2 separate regions of the Homo sapiens genome follow, and region 2 is linked to region 1. Evidence: fine-mapped expression QTL. Tissue or cell type: whole blood. Region 1 holds a variant in brackets; the other region holds the start of a gene. All regions are shown on one strand. Distances are from middle to middle.

Region 1 (8,108 bases):
CTAGATGGTGTTGATGCTCATAGACATTCTTTGGTTTGTGGGCATGGAAGAGTTAGGCATTTACTGTAGTCTTCACTGTCTTGGCTTGTTTGTTCCCATCCTTCTTGAGAAAGCTTTCCAGATATTCCACAGGGCTTGGGTGTTGTGATCTAAGCTGTATTTGCTTTAGGGGGCACCTCAAGCCCAGTAATACTGTGGTTCTTGCAAACTTGTAGATGTGTCACACTGATGGTCTTGGACAAGATCTGTGAGAATTATCTAAATTACTAGGCAGAGATTCCTGTTCTCTTCCCTTGCTTTCTCCCTCTCATAATGTTTTAAATAAAAGTTATAAAAGTAATATTTTCATCAATTATTAAATCTCATGTAATTAAAATTTTGTTTGCTTGACCTTGATTAGCAATTTCCTGAGCCCATCAGTTTCTTCATCAGAATTCCGGAAATTTTTATTTAGTCTATTAATTTTAAAATTATTAGAACTATGAGTTTAAGAGTACTTGTTAGAGTCTTTTTTATGAAAAGCAATTTTGGACTATAGCCAATTATAAATAATTATAGAGAAAAATAAAAATAATAACTATGGATAACAAAGACTTAGAATAGTTATGGTTAAAATATGATGAAAGTTCACAGCTGAAAAGAAAATTTAGTTTTCTTGTCATTTCTTTACAACATTTTAAGATAACAACCAGAATCATGATTGTGAGCTCATAACAGGTCCACCAGACTTTCATAGATTTCACTTAATCTTTAGAATACTTAGACCAATAACATCCATAAAAATATAACTTAAAAGAAGATTTAACCTAACAACCAAAATTATGACTAACATATTAGATTTTTATAAATTTATATAATTTTTGAAATATTCATCTCAATAATTTATCCATAAGTACAACTAAAAGAAGATCTAGTATCACTTGTCATTTGACTATGCTTTTTATATCATTTACCAAATAAGCCTAATCATTTAAAATCTGCAGGATGAGAGATGTGTTCTTTGAGTCTCTCTAGGGGCTTAGATTGAAAATTTCAAAGTTAATTTTAGTTCAAAAAGACTTCATTTAGAATTCTGGTCCTTGGAAAGCCTGCCAAAGATATCAAAAGGTTCAAAACACTTGATCAAAACAGAATAATAGGTCACTTTGAAATAGCAGTCATTTATTAAACCATAGTGAAAATAAAGACTTCAAAAGCATTAAAGAAAGTTACATGGATTTTAAAAACCTTAACCTCTCAAAGTTCTGCTTTCCTAATTTAAAAAACTGATAAAGATGACATTGGAAAATTATCTTGATAAAATGTAAATTCTTTTTTGTTTATTAGGCTGGGTACCAAAAAAGTTAAAAAAATTAAAAAAAAATTTTTAAACTAAAACAAAAACTCCTTCACTGTGATTGCTTCTCCTTATGGGAAGCCCATTTAGATATCCTTGAGGTTGAGTCTGATGAAGAAGGCACTTGATTTTAATCAGATGTGGGAATAATGATGTCCAAAGCTATGAGTGTACCACATATTATAGAGGAATGTAAACAAGAAAACTATTATCTTGAGCAGGGGAATACATGGTTTTTCAGGACAGTATGGGAAGTATCCTGGATACATGGAATAATTTAGACACATTAAAAAAACCACTAGTACGGAATCAAATTGGGGAAAAACTTTGAGATATTGGCTTTCTTACACAATTCAGCCAGTTCGGCTAAAATGTAAACATTAAAAATGTAACCCTACAGTTATTAAAAATTGAAAAAAAGCATAAAAGTAGGCTGCTAAAAATCAAACTGCTATGGAATCTGCTTTACCCCCAATTTTGGCCCATTAACTTAATTAGGACAAGTGATGTTTAGCCATGTGAACAGGCCTCATTTTGTCAAAAATATAATTTGGATCCAACTGCTTTTTTTTTTTTTTTTTTGAGAAAGGATCTCACTATGTTGGCCAGACTGGACTCAAACTACTGGGCTCAAGGGAGACGCTAATCTCAGCTTCCTCAGAAGCTGAGACTACATGCATGAGCCACTATAACCAGTTTTTTAATCCAGCTGCCTTTTGTAAACCAGTAAGTTTGTTTTACTGTCTCATGGCTAAAATTCTAAAACAAAAGCTATAATACATTTGTGTGAATGTATGTGTGTTTAGGTGTGTTTATCCATGTGTACATGTATTATGTCATATATTGTGTTTACATGGTAAAATCTGATATGGTCAGCCAGAAATCTCTTAAGAAATTTTACTCAGATTGTCTTAGGTAAATGAGCATCAGGCCATAATAGCAGAGTTAGAACTGGAGAAAAATAGTTATGGGAGCTGACAAAAAAGTTGAAGGGGAGACTTATCACCCCAGCTAATCAAAACAAACAAACAAACAAACAAACACCTTTTCAAGGGGAGAAAGAAAAAGAGCAAAAGGCAGTGATGCATTCCTGCAAATCATATGCAAGGAGGTACTTTTTGTTTGGTTGACTAGTCAATGCAGATGGGGAAGCGCTTTAGAAGTTATGTTTGTTTGTTTGTTTTGCTTTGTCTGTTGGTCCCTGTGTGGCAGACAGAGCAATTTTTGTGGCAGATACAGTTTACGTTATTTCTCTGAGCTCAAGATTTTGATCTGTTTAATCTGAGAGCTTAACTTTTTATAAACGTTTGTCTAGTTCTTTTTTTTTCAGAATATTAATTATTCAACTAATTGTTCCATCACCCTGAGCATACATTGGTCAGACAAGCCTAACTAAATATGTACATTTTCAAAAGGTGTTTAGGTTGTTGGTTATAATGAAGCTGTTGTAATTTGTAAAGCCATTCAGTTGAAAGCTTTTTAAGACTTTTTAAAAAGTCTTGGCTGGAGCGCCATAAGCCATCCATTTTATCTCAACACCAATAGAAGAGTTATCAGATTCAAAGTAGGCAGGAAAAAAAGTAGAGACAGACACAAAACTTAGAAAGCTTTACATGTTTGCTCCATAGTTGTAGGGTTTGTTTGTTTGTTTTGTTTTGTTTTTTGAGAGAGTTCAAACAGTGAACACTTGACCTCAGAATTTTTCTTGCTGCTCCCTTCTCTCTGGGATCTGTAATTAATACAGTGCTTCTGTTATTTCATGTGTTTTGCTATGTTGGCTCCTCTGTTTCTCACCTGACCAATACACCTGAACTGAACACTCCTCCCAGGCAGGGCTCTCTTAGAGAGTGGCTATCTTGGTAGGAATAAACTGGACACAGGTCAGAGAAGAGTGCAAGAACATCTGCTAGCTTAATAAAGTTTCCTGTGAGAGGAACACCTGGTGAAGGGGCAGACACTTAGGCATTGAGTTGTCTTCCAGGATAAAAAAAAGTGTCCCATGAAAGACACACTGTAAACACCCACTGCAACCTCTTCTGGAACAAAAACTCGAGGAAAATCACAACAGCTGGTCTTCAATGGCAGTTGAAAATCAAAGATGTCAAAGAGATCACCTACCAGGATCTTTCTTTTCAAAAGAAACATAGAAGGAGTCGCCAGATCTATGTAAGAAAATCCAGCAGGAGGTGAGACCCCATAGCCAAAAAAAAGAAATATTCAAAACAGAAACTGAGGGAAGAGAGAGACCCTCTCATATTTTTTATATTGTTTTAAACTCAGAAAAGGAAAGAGAAGTGAAACTAAAGGCAGGTAGCCTGGCGCCTGGGAACCAGACCAGAAACCAAGGAACCAGACCTGAAATCAGGCCAGGGCCTGCCTGACCTAAGCCTGGTAGTTAAAATTCGACCCCTGACCTAGCAACTGTTGTTGTCTATAGATTCCAGACATTGTACGGAAGGACACTGTGAAACCTCCCGCTCTGTTCTGTTTCACTCTAACCACCGGTGCTTGCAGCCCCTGTCACGTACTCCCTGGCTTGCTCAATCGATCAAGACCCTCTCACGTGGACCCTCTTAGAGTTGTGAGCTCTTAAAAGGGACAAAAATTGAGCACCTGATGAGCTCAGATGTTAAGACGCTAGCCTGCCGATGCTCCCAGCTGATTAAAGCCACTCCCTTCACTATCTCGGTGTCTGAGGGGTTTTGTCCATGGCTCATCCTGCTACAAGACAATTGTCCATGTGTCAAATCATATTAACACATCAGACAAAATAAAGATTGTAAAGATTCTTCTGGATTTGTAGAGTGCAGGTCAATAATGAACTTGGTGAGAAGAGTTTCAGTGAAGTTATTTTTATTTTTTGTGAAATATGAATAAATGATGTAGTACAGATTGTGAGTGAGCTTAATGACAGAACTGAAGGCCAGGTGAGGATAGGGAGAGTGATTTAAAGTGTTTTCTATCTGCTCAGCTATGTTGTTTTATCCAGCAGTGATCACAGCCAAAGGAGGAAAACAGAATGAGAAACAGGATCCCAGTGAAATTTAGCTATCATGTCTCTCTGGGTCACCCACTCACAACTTCCCCATCATTGTGTAACAGTTCATCATTCTTACTAATTCCAGAAAAAAAGTATACTGCAACCCTGCCAAGAAAGAGCTACTTCCCATTCTTTCTGTTCCAC[T/C]CTACTGTCTAAAAAGATTTCTAGTCCTTGTGAAATGTTCTAACAGGAATGCTATAGATGACAAGTTCTTCTGGTACTCTTAACCATTTACTGCAGTTCCCAAAAGCAGAGACAGTAAAAATTTGCCTAAAATGAAAGTCAAATGTCAGTGTTTTCAGAAAGAGGAATAGTTTGTTTCTTAAAGGAATGTCAGATTGTTTACTTTGTGTCAACTCAGAAATTAAAGACAAGAAAGATAACATTAACATAATCTACCATCAGAAAAGCAAACAGAGAAAAACAGCAGTGCAGACCAACAAGAGTTCCTACATCGTGTGCTGATTTCAGTCCTCCATAATCATAGCACACCTGTATATAGTTCCAAAGGGGCAGTGAAAAACAAGAAAGAATGTATTGATTTACACAATGCTCTTTGCTGAAAATTAAATGAAATCTCTATGAACATGAGTTTGAATTCTGGCCCTGCTAAGTTGAACTGATAAAGTGGAAGGAGGAAAAGTGTGGGCCTTGCTGTTCTGTCACAGTGTTTGAAAGGGCATTCAAATTATTTGCATCTCAAGAAAACATCTTGGAGAGCACTTCCAAGATGGCCGAATAGGAACAGCTCCGGTCTGCAGCTCCCAGTGAGATCGACGCAAAAGACGGGTGATTTCTGCATTTCCAACTGAGGTACCTGGTTCATCTCACTGGGACTGGTTGGACAGTGGGTGCAGCTCATGGAGGGCGAGCTGAAGCAGGGCAGGACATCGCTTCACCTGGGAACTGCAAGGGGTCGAGGGATTTCCTTTCCTAGCCAAGGGAAGCAGTGACAGACTGTACCTGGAGAAACAGTACACTCCTGATGAAATACTGCACTTTTCCCACAGTCTTAGCAACCAGCAGACCAGGAGATACCCTCCTGTGCTTTGCTCAATGGGTGCCACACCCATGGACCCTTGCTCACTGCTAGCACAGCAGCCTGAGATTCACCTGCGATGCAGCAGCTTGATGTGGGGAAGGGTGCCTGCCATTGCTGAGGCTTGAGTAGGTCACAGTGTAAACAAAGAGGCCAGGAAGCACGAACTGGGTGGAACCCACCTCAGCTCAACAAGGCCTACTGCCTCTATAGATTCCACCTCTGCAGGCAGGGCATAGTAGAACAAAAGGCAGCAGCTTCTGCAGACTTAACCGTCCCCATCTGAAAGCTCTAAAGAGACCAGTGGTTCTCTCAGCACAGCGTTCTAGCTCCAAGAATGGACAGACTGCCTCCTTAAGTGGGTCCCTGACCCCCGTGTAGCCTGACTAGCAAACACCTCCCAATAGGGGCCAACAGACACCCCAAACAGACAGGTACCCCTCTGGGATGAAGCTTCCAGAGGAAGGATCGGGCAGCAATATTTGCTGTTCTGCAGCCTCTGCTGGTGATACTCAGGAAACAGGGTCTGGAGTGGACCTCCAGCAAACTCTAACAGTCCTGAAGCTGAGGGACCTGACTGTTAGAAGGAAAACTAACAAACAGAAAGGAATAGCATCAACATCAACAAAAAAGACATCTACACCAAAGACCCATCTGTAGGTCATCAACATCAAAGACCAAAAGTAGATAAAACCACAAAGATGAGGAGAAACCAGGGAAGAGGAGCTGAAACTTCAAAAAAATAGAGTGCCTCTTCTCCTCCAAAGTATCGCAGCTCCTCGCCAGCAAAGGAACAAAACTGGACAGAGAATGAGTTTGATGAGTTGACAAAAGTAGGCTTCAGAAGGCCGGTAATAACGAACTTCTCTGAGCTAAAGGAGCATATTCTAACCCATCGCAAAAAAGCCAAAAACCTTGAAAAAAGGTTAGACAAATGGCTAACTAGAATAAACAGTGTAGAGAAAACCTTAAATGACCTGATGGAGCTGAAAACCATGGCATGAGAACTTCATGATGCATGCACAAGCTTCAGTAGCTGATTTGATGAAGTGAAAGAAAGGATATCAGTGATTGAAGATCAAATTAATAAAATAAAGTGAGAAGACAAGATTAGAGAAAAAAGAGTAAAAACAAATGAAAAAAGCCTCCAAGAAATATGAGACTACGTGAAAAGACCAAATACACGTTTGACTGGTGCACCTGAAAGTGATGGTGAGAATGGAACCAAGTTAGTTAATATCCAACTCTTCAGGATATTATCCAAGAGAACTTCCCCAACCTAGAAAGACAGGCCAAAATTCAAATTCAGGAAATAAAGAGAACACCACAGAGACATTCCTTGAGAAGAGCAACCCAAGACACATAATTATTAGATTCACCAAGGTTGAAACAAAGGAAAAAATGGTAAGGGCAGCCAGGGAGAAAGGTCGGGTTACCCACAAAGGGAAGCCCATCAGACTAACAGTGGATCTCTCTAAACAAACCCTACAAGCCAGAAGAGAGTGGGGGCCAATATTCAACATTCTTAAAGAAAAGAATTTTCAACCCAGAATATCATATCCAGCCAAACTAAGCTTCATAAGTGAAGGTGAAATAAAATCCTTTACAGACAAACAAATGCTGTGAGATTTTGTCACCACCAGGCCTGCTTTACAAGAGCTCCTGAAGGAAGGACTAAACATGGAAAGGAACAACCAGTACCAGCCACTGCAAAAACATGCCAAATGGTAAAGACCACTGATGCTATGAAGAAACTGCATCAATTAACAGGTAAAATAACCAGCTAACATCATAACGATAGGATCAAATCCAAATATAACAATATTAACCTTAAATGTAAATGGACTAAATGCCCCAATTAAAAAACACAGACTGCCAAATTAGATAAAGAGTCAAAACCCATCTGTGTGCTGTATTCAGGAGACCCATCTCACATGCAGAGATGCACATAGACTCAAAATAAAGGGATGGAGGAAGATCCACCAAGAAAATGAAAAAAAAAAAAAAAAAAAAGGGTTGCAATCCTCGTCTCTGATAAAACAGACTTTAAACCAACAAAGATCAAACAAGACAAAGAAGGCCACTAGATAATGGTAAAGGGATCAATTCAACAAGAAGAGCTAACTATCCTAAATATATATGCACCCAATACAGGAGCACCCAGATTCATACAGCAAGTCCTTAGAGACATACAAAGAGACTTAGACTCCCACACAATAATAATGGGAGACTTTACCACCCCACTATGAATAGTAGACAGATCAACGACACAGAAGGTTAAAAAAGATATCCAGGACTTGAACTCAGCTCTGCACCAAGCAGACCTAGTAGACATCTACAGAACTCTCCACCACAAATCAATAGAATATACATTCTTCTCAGCACCACATCACACTTATTCTAAAATTGACCGAATAATTAGTAGTAAAACACTCCTCAGCAAATGTAAAAGAAAAGAAATCACAACAAACTGTCTCTCAGACCACACTGCAATCAGATTAGAACTCAGGATTAAGAAACTCACTCAAAACTGCACAACTACATGGAAACTGAACAACCTGCTCCTGAATGAATACTGGGTAAATAACAAAATGAAGGCAGAAATAAAGATGTTCTTTGAAACCAATGAGAACAAAGACAGAATGTACCAGAATCTCTGGAAAACATTTAAAGCAGTGTGTAGAGGGAAATTT
Region 2 (8,108 bases), 40 kb before region 1:
AGCCTTCTCCAAAATTAGATGAACCAGAGAAACTGACAGCACTTCCACATTCAAGTTGTCTACAAATGACAGATGCATGATCTATGTTGAAGTTATCATCACACACTGTTCCCCACCGTCCTTGGAATTTGATCTCTATTCTTCCAGAACACATATTCCCTCCACGCGTCAGCCTCATTTCCAAATTGGATCCATCTGGAGCAGAGAAAAGACCAGAGTTCAGAAGTTACATTCATTTAGAAGTGATTTTAGAAAAGAAGTTTCCTCTGGACACTTGGGATTTTATGTTGTCCTTAAAATGGTGCCTGATTTTGGACATTGCCCAGCTCCACACGGTAGAGAATTTTAATATGTTAAAATCTAGGAAGCAATTAGGATTTTTATCTATATCTACTTACAAAGGAAAATGTTTACAGGTTAAAGTTTTTAAACTTTCTGTTTTGTTTTGTTTCCATCTATTACTAGGACAGATGTAAATACTCTTTTTTGTACAGAAATAGATAAATTCGACTCAAGTTATTTAAATTTGACTCAGGTTAAAGCTTTAAGTGTATAAATTTCAAAAAGCAAATTGATTAACTCCACTGGTAGTTATAAAACAACAGAAAAAAAGAGCTAAAAGTACTACACTGTTTTAGCTAAACAGCCAGTTCTATACACAGCAATAATTATGATAAGAGCCTGCTAAAATTTATGATAATTTTAAACTTTGCAGTAGATGTTACTTTTGTTATTCCCCATTTCACACCTCCCATAGTGGTTAAAAATAAGAGGAAAGAAGGAGGAGAAGGAGGAGAAGGAAGAGGAAGAGGAAGCGGAGAAAGAAGAAAGAGAACTGAGTCACCAAGAGAACTGAGCCATGAGGATCTTCAGCACCTGTTACATACCAAACAGTGTACCAGTAGTTTTACATGTATTATATCATTGAATCCTCAGAAACTGAAGTTTAGAGAGATTTGACAACTTGCACAAAATCACAGGATATTAGCTATGTGAAAATTTATTTCAGCATTTTTCTAGATGCTACTGTGTGTTTCTCTTATCACATCATGATGCCTGGACAGAGATAAGTCCTTTCTATAGTCAGTCCTATGGGAGAGAGAGAGGCTGGGAGGTGAGAGGATTGTATAAAAATTAATGAAACAGGCCAGTCACGGTGGCTCACACCTGTAATCCCAGGATTTTGGGAGGCCGAGGCAGGTGGATCACCTGAGCTCAGGAGTTCGAGACCAGCCTGGCCAATATGGTGAAACCCTGTCTCTACTAAAAATACAAAAATCAGCCAGGTGTGGTGGCAGGTGCCTATAATCCCAGCTACTCGGGAGACTGAGGCAGGAGAATTGCTTGAACCCGGGAGGTGGAGGTTGCAGTGAGCCGAGATAGCGCCATCGCACTCCAGCCTGGGGGACAAGAGCGACAATTCGTCCCAAAAAAAAAAAAAAAAAAAAGGAATGAAACAAACAAAAAGAAATGGGGATCCCAGGAATCTGAGTTGGATCAGAAATGTGCCCTTGGGATTTGTCAGCAGAAAGGCCTGACACATGACTTTCTCAGTTATTGTGGGGTCAATTGCAATAAAACATATGGAGATGTTTTGTAAATTAAAAGCACAATGTAAATGAAATGACTAGCATTGCACACTGGTCAAGCAATTATACTTTCAAAGAATCCTTCCTACAACAAGAAATGATGTATTAATGCTAGAAATAGTTGTTTTTTGATTTACTAAGTTGATTATCAGTTAATGGACAAAATGGTAATAATTTGTGGGTCAACATATCAAAACAAGTCACTGGGAAAGAACAAGGAAATAACTTAGATGTCATGATATTTTTATGATATAGGAATAGTAGGTTACAGTAAGCTTACTGAATATCAAATTTAAACCACCACTTCTTGGCTTTTTGGCTAAGATCATGTATAAAATTGAAGCCAGTCACCTCCTCATTAATCACAGTGTTCAGAATTTTTTTTATTAAAAAAAAATGACCTCGTGTTTTGTGGTTTTCTAGCAATGGATGGAGTACTTTTATACATGAACTAGATTGCTTACAGGAAAGTGGCTTATTCTAGGTTTTAACCCATCTACATATTTTTTTCCCACCAAGGATTTTGTGTTGAGGCTTTGACTAATGCAAGTCTTACCTGAGCAGGTCACTCCAGCATCTTGTTGGTGAGTACAGTTACTATGCTTTCCCCATCCATCATGTTTGCAATCCCAAAGAGCTGACTCATTCCCACGACAAGAAACATGATCCATCCAAATGCGTCCAGAACCTGCACTGGAATTAGCCCATCCAGGGGCTTTGATAGCAGTTGGACATCCCAGCTGGTTACAAATCACAGAGACCGCTTCCATGCTCCAGCCATTATTACACACCGTTCCCCACTCCTCCTGGACTTTCACTTCCACTCTCCCGCTACACTTGTTTTCACCATCCACTAGCCTCAGCTCCTTGTCTGTTCCTCCTGCAACAATGGATTAAGACAGTAATTGGCCAAGGTCGCAAAGAGCAAGTAGAAAATTATTTTTTTACATTACTTATTTATCCTTCAAACTCAGATTTGAGAACCATCCTAGTCCTATCCATGGTAAAACAGAAGAATGTTATTTCACAGTCATTCAAATATAAGTATCAGTATCACTGGTTTCAAATTAAGCAGTGCTATATGACCAGTAAAGGTAAGTAACACAATAGTGTTTAATAGCTTTATTTTATGGCTGGATAGCCTTAATAGTGGCAATTTATATAATTCCTGTGAAGCATTTTCGAGTTAAATAAGATGCTACAAAACGTTATGGGGATGAACTTTTTACATTTCTCCAAAATCCTAAGGTCGATAGAAAGAAGGCTGATAGAGAATTTATGAAGATGAAAAGACTAGTTGTAAGAAATTTAACTCTTATTTCATACGTATATGTAAAATAGCATAAATCTTAAAAACGCTAGACTGAAACTTATCTAAAATTAAGATGGAGATATTTTCTGCTATTTTCTACCATAAAATAAACCTCTTTGTACTCTCTTCCCATCCCCAGATGATAGATGATCTCAGTTGCCTCCTTGGCATTATTTTAGCTTTATGTAGGAATCTGGTCCCACCAACCTGGCATCTCTCAATACATTTTTAGATAAATTTTGGCATTTGAATTTACTAATGTGTTTCCCAAATTCACTTTTGTTTTAATGATTCTGAAGTTTCTCCTCCTTTGTATTCTTTCCTATTTTTCAGTTCAACATTATTTCTAATCTTTAAGTAAAATTCATTTCTCTCCTGTGAGTTTATTTCATTTGGTGAGGAACCATGCTAATATTTTGGTTAGATTTTTATTGTGTGCTTTTAATAATATCTGATCCTTTGAATACATGGAGCATGTCACCTAGTTTTTAGATGCTACTTGGCCTTCAGAAAAATTGTTTGCCTTTTAACTGTTCTTGTCAGAGTGGGCTAAGGCTGTAAGTAAATTTGACAAAGTACTCACCAAGAGAACTGGTGACAAAACAGGCACTGAGAAGTAAGACCACAGTAATGGTGAAGGGACTCAAGTTGACAAAATGTCTTCTGAAGTCTGTGAAAAAGAAAAGAGGGCAAAAGTAGCATCTTCCCAAAAAGAGACTTTGGAGAAGATAGATGGTTTCAGAGGTTAATTAACAAAGAAGCTCAAACCAAGACAGAAAACTCTTCATTCTAAATTGCAAGGCAGGCAGAAAACATTCATACCCAGGCTCATATAGTTTCAGTGAAATGGTTTTGAAAATGTTCATGTTTATAGGCAACCTAGAGGTGACGGATTAGCAGAAGGTTGGTGGTGGAAACGAGAATTGCAAGGTCAACCCTTAAAACCTGGAAAATGGAAACAACATCAATGAAACTTAGTAGTGGACAATTCTCCCAGCAGGCACAGGGAAGGTATCCTGAGATTTCTCTATTCCCTAACCACCTTGATATTCAATTATGGATGCCCCCATCTTTAAGACTACCTAGCCGCACTGATAGAGGATAAGTTCCATGAGTAAACGAATTATATCTATCATGTTCACCATAATTTCACCAGTACCTGGCTTGATGCTTGCCAAATAGTAGCTAGCAGAACAATACCTAAGTGATGATATCCATATCTGAAAAACTCAAATATTAAATCTTGTCATCTCTACCTGTATCCTTATCACATAATACACTCTTTAATGCTGTTATTACTCTCATATCTTCTCGTTACTCTAACCCAACACTAATTTAAAACTAAAAATGCTAAATGATTTTAACATGTCCAAATAAGTCTTAAAATAGATAACTCACTTATCAGAGTAGATAACTTTCTTTATGTAATTAACTCTCTATCAATATTCCTTTCTGCATATTCTATCTTTTCTAACAACTATTTTTTCATACTCAGTACATTTCAGTTAACTTTAGTTCCTGACTTAATTTCACCTCAGCAGTTTTACAAAATTAATGCCGACTCTGATTCCCATATCACATCTTCAATTTTGAATCTATGGCAGATCAAAGGTGCTGCCATATAAGCCTATGTCCTTTTTCCACTCCTTACTCTCCTGATGCCAATCACTTTTAAATCACATCCATTGACTGTCATAATAATTACATACCCCATTAAAGGGGAAATGTAGAATAAATGAGAAGCTTTTACCAGCAGATCCAGAGTCTTCAAGTAGCACCATTCTGAGTTTGCTCATTCCAAAGATTTATAACTTCAATGATTCCTAAATCTTCTTGTATTATTCCCTAGAAATGTTCTTCTAAAGAAAACAACTAAGAATTCTAAAAATCACTTCACTTTCATGAAAATGAAAAGGCTACATATGGAGGCGGAGTCAACTCAAAAAGGGAAGTCATTGAAAGAGCTGAGGTTCCATTTCATACTCATGTTTTCTTCAATATAGCACATGAAACAACCAAAGGAAATTGGGAAACACTTCCCACAGATTTCGAAAAATTAGAGGAAATACTAACTCATATGCTGCTGTTGCTGAATTAAATATTTTACATTTTTGAACTTCATTTTGGACAAATATATAAGACACAAAAAATTACTAATTGTCATGTAGAAAAATTATGTAAAAAACTAAAGCAAAACAGGCAAAACATAATTAAATAACATTTTATCATATGCACTTTTAATTTTATTTCCATAATCAAATGTGTCTAATGAGTAATTTTGTGTAAGTTGTTGAGACACAGCATTTGTCATTTCTTTTCTAATGGGATGAAGTACACCAAGAGAATTAGCCATGACTATTACTGATATTACAAATGGTGAAACAAAAATTAGCAACACATGATTTTAGCTCTATATAACTCAGATTCAAGTAAGAGAAACACATATGATAACAACAATGAACATAAAGCTAAAGTGCAGTGTTAAAAATAATGGACAAAGTAGTCCTATCTATTGAGAGAAAGGAATGAACAGTCAGAAAACTATTTTCTCTGAGGACAGGCTTAAATTGTGTCCTAAAAGATGAGAAAAACATTGCCAAAGGGACAAATGATAAAGGAGTTTAAGGCATAAAAAATAGCACATACAAATGAATATTTGTATATAAAAACATATAAGCTCAAAAGAACTACTAATAGTTCATCATGGCATACATATTGTCAGGTGTTAGTGATGGGCCTGAAATGGGGAATTAAAGAGCAACTCCAGCCTTCCAGAGAGACATTCACTAGAACCCAGTCAACAAAGGCACCCCAGTTTTCTTCCACTTCTCAGGCATGCCAAATCTCTCCCTGCCTCATGGTATGTCATACATATTGTTCCTTCTGTGTTTACTGCCTCCCTACCCGTACCTTTCTCTAAGATAACTCTCACTCACGTATACTTTATTTCTCAGTTAAACCTCCCTTCACTAGGAGAAATAACTCTAACGCTGAAAGACCCCAGAAAATATGCACTCATGATAGCCTGTACTTATGAGGGTTGTCAATTATATATATATTTTTTTCCTTTTTTTAAATTATTATTATACTTTAAGTTTTAGGATACATGTGCACAACATGCAGGTTTGTTACGTATGTATACATGTGCAATGCTGGTGTGCTGCACCCATTAACTCGTCATTTAGCATTAGGTATATCTCCTAATGTTATCCCTCCCCCCTCCCCTGACCCCACAACCGTCCCTGGAGTGGGATGTTCCCCTTCCTGTGTCCATGTGTTCTCATTGTTCAATTCCCACCTATGAGTGAGAACATGTGGTGTTTGGTTTTTTGTCCTTGCGATGGTTTGCTGAGAATGATGGTTTCCAGTTTCATCCATGTCCCTACAAAGGACATGAACTCATCATTTTTTATGGCTGCATAGTATTCCATGGTATATATGTGCCACATTTTCTTAATCCAGTCTATCATTGATGGACATTTGGGTTGGTTCCAAGTCTTTGCTATTGCGAGTAGTGCCGCTATAAACGTACGTGTGCATGTGTCTTTATAGCAGCATGATTTATAATCCTTTGGGTATATACCCAGAAATGGGATGGCTGGGTCAAATGGTATTTCTAGTTCTAGATCCCTGAGGAATTGCCACACTGACTTCCACAATGGTTGAATTAGTTTACAGTCCCACCAACAGTGTAAAAGCATGCCTATTTCTCCACATCCTCTCCAGCACCTATTGTTTCCTGACTTTTTAATGATCACCATTCTAACTGGTGTGAGATGGTATCTCGTTGTGGTTTTGGTTTGCATTTCTCTGATGGCCAGTGATGATGAGCATTTTTTCATGTGTTTTTTGGCTGCATAAATGTCTTCTTTTGAGAAGTATCTGTTCATATCCTTCGCCAATTTTTGATGGGGTTGTTTGTTTTTTTCTTGTAAATTTGTTTGAGGTCATTGTAGATTCTGGATATTAACCCTTTGTCAGATGAGTAGGTTGCGAAAATTTTCTCCCATTTTGTAGATTTCCTGTTCACTCTGATGGTAGTTTCTTTTGCTGTGCAGAAGCTCTTTAGTTTAATTAGATCCCATTTGTCTATTTTGGCTTTTGTTGCCATTGCTTTTGGTGTTTTAGATATGAAGTCCTTGCCCATGCCTATGTCCTGAATGGTATTGCCTAGGTTTTCTTCTAGGGTTTTTATGGTTTTAGGTCTAACATGTAAGTCTTTAATCCATCTTGAATTAATTTTTGTATAAGGTGTAAGGAAGGGATCCAGTTTCAGCTTTCTACATATGGCTAGCCAGTTTTCCCAGCAACATTTATTAAATAGGGAATCCTTTCCCCATTGCTTGTTTTTGTCAGGTTTGTCAAAGATCAGATGGTTGTAGATATGCGGCATTATTTCTGAGGGCTCTGTTCTGTTCCATTGATCTATATCTCTGTTTTGGTACCAGTACCATGCTGTTTTGGTTACTGTAGCCTTGTAGTATAGTTTGAAGTCAGGTAGCGTGATGCCTCCAGCTTTGTTCTTTTGGCTTAGGATTGACTTGGGGATGTGGGCTCTTTTTTGGTTCCATATGAACTTTAAAGTAGTTTTTTCCAATTCTGTGAAGAAAGTCATTGGTAGCTTGATGGGGATGGCATTGAATCTATAAATTACCTTGGGCAGTATGGCCATTTTCATGATATTGATTCTTCCTACCCATGAGCATGGAAGGTTCTTCCATTTGTTGGTATCCTCTTTTATTTCATTGAGCAGTGGTTTGTAGTTCTCCTTGAAGAGGTCCTTCACATCCCTTGTAAGTTGGATTCCTAGGTATTTTATTCTCTTTGAAGCAATTGTGAATGGGAGTTCACTCATGATTTGGCTCTCTGTTTGTCTGTTATTGGTGTATAAGAATGCTTGTGATTTTTGTACATTGATTTTGTATCCTGAGACTTTGCTGAAGTTGCTTATCAGCTTAAGGAGATTTTGGGCTGAGACGATGGGGTTTTCTAAATATACAATCATGTCATCTGCAAACAGGGACAATTTGACTTCCTCTTTTCCTAATTGAATACCCTTTATTTTCTTCTCCTGCCTAATTGCCATGGCCAGAACTTCTAACACTATCTTGAATAGGAGTGGTGAGAGAGGGCATCCCAGTCTTGTGCCAGTTTTCAAAGGGAATGCTTCCAGTTTTTGCCCATTCAGTACGATATTGGCTGTGGGT

The links. PIP is the estimated chance that this variant, and not a neighbour inherited with it, causes the effect.
Region 2: CD163 starts here. The variant in region 1 is fine-mapped to the expression of CD163 in whole blood (TOPMed, PIP 0.94).

Annotation. Positions count from the first base shown.
Region 1 is chr12:7,538,536-7,546,643 of GRCh38, forward strand. No RefSeq gene overlaps it. Among named protein-coding and RNA genes, the nearest start is that of CD163, 39 kb to the left of the region's middle. The variant T/C (reference allele first, on the strand shown) is at 4,521.
Region 2 is chr12:7,498,994-7,507,101 of GRCh38, forward strand. It overlaps CD163 (CD163 molecule), which reads right to left and starts at 4,784. Exons shown (of 17, transcript NM_203416.4): 1 at 4,652-4,784; 2 at 3,485-3,571; 3 at 2,146-2,469; 4 at 1-195. The coding sequence starts at 4,697.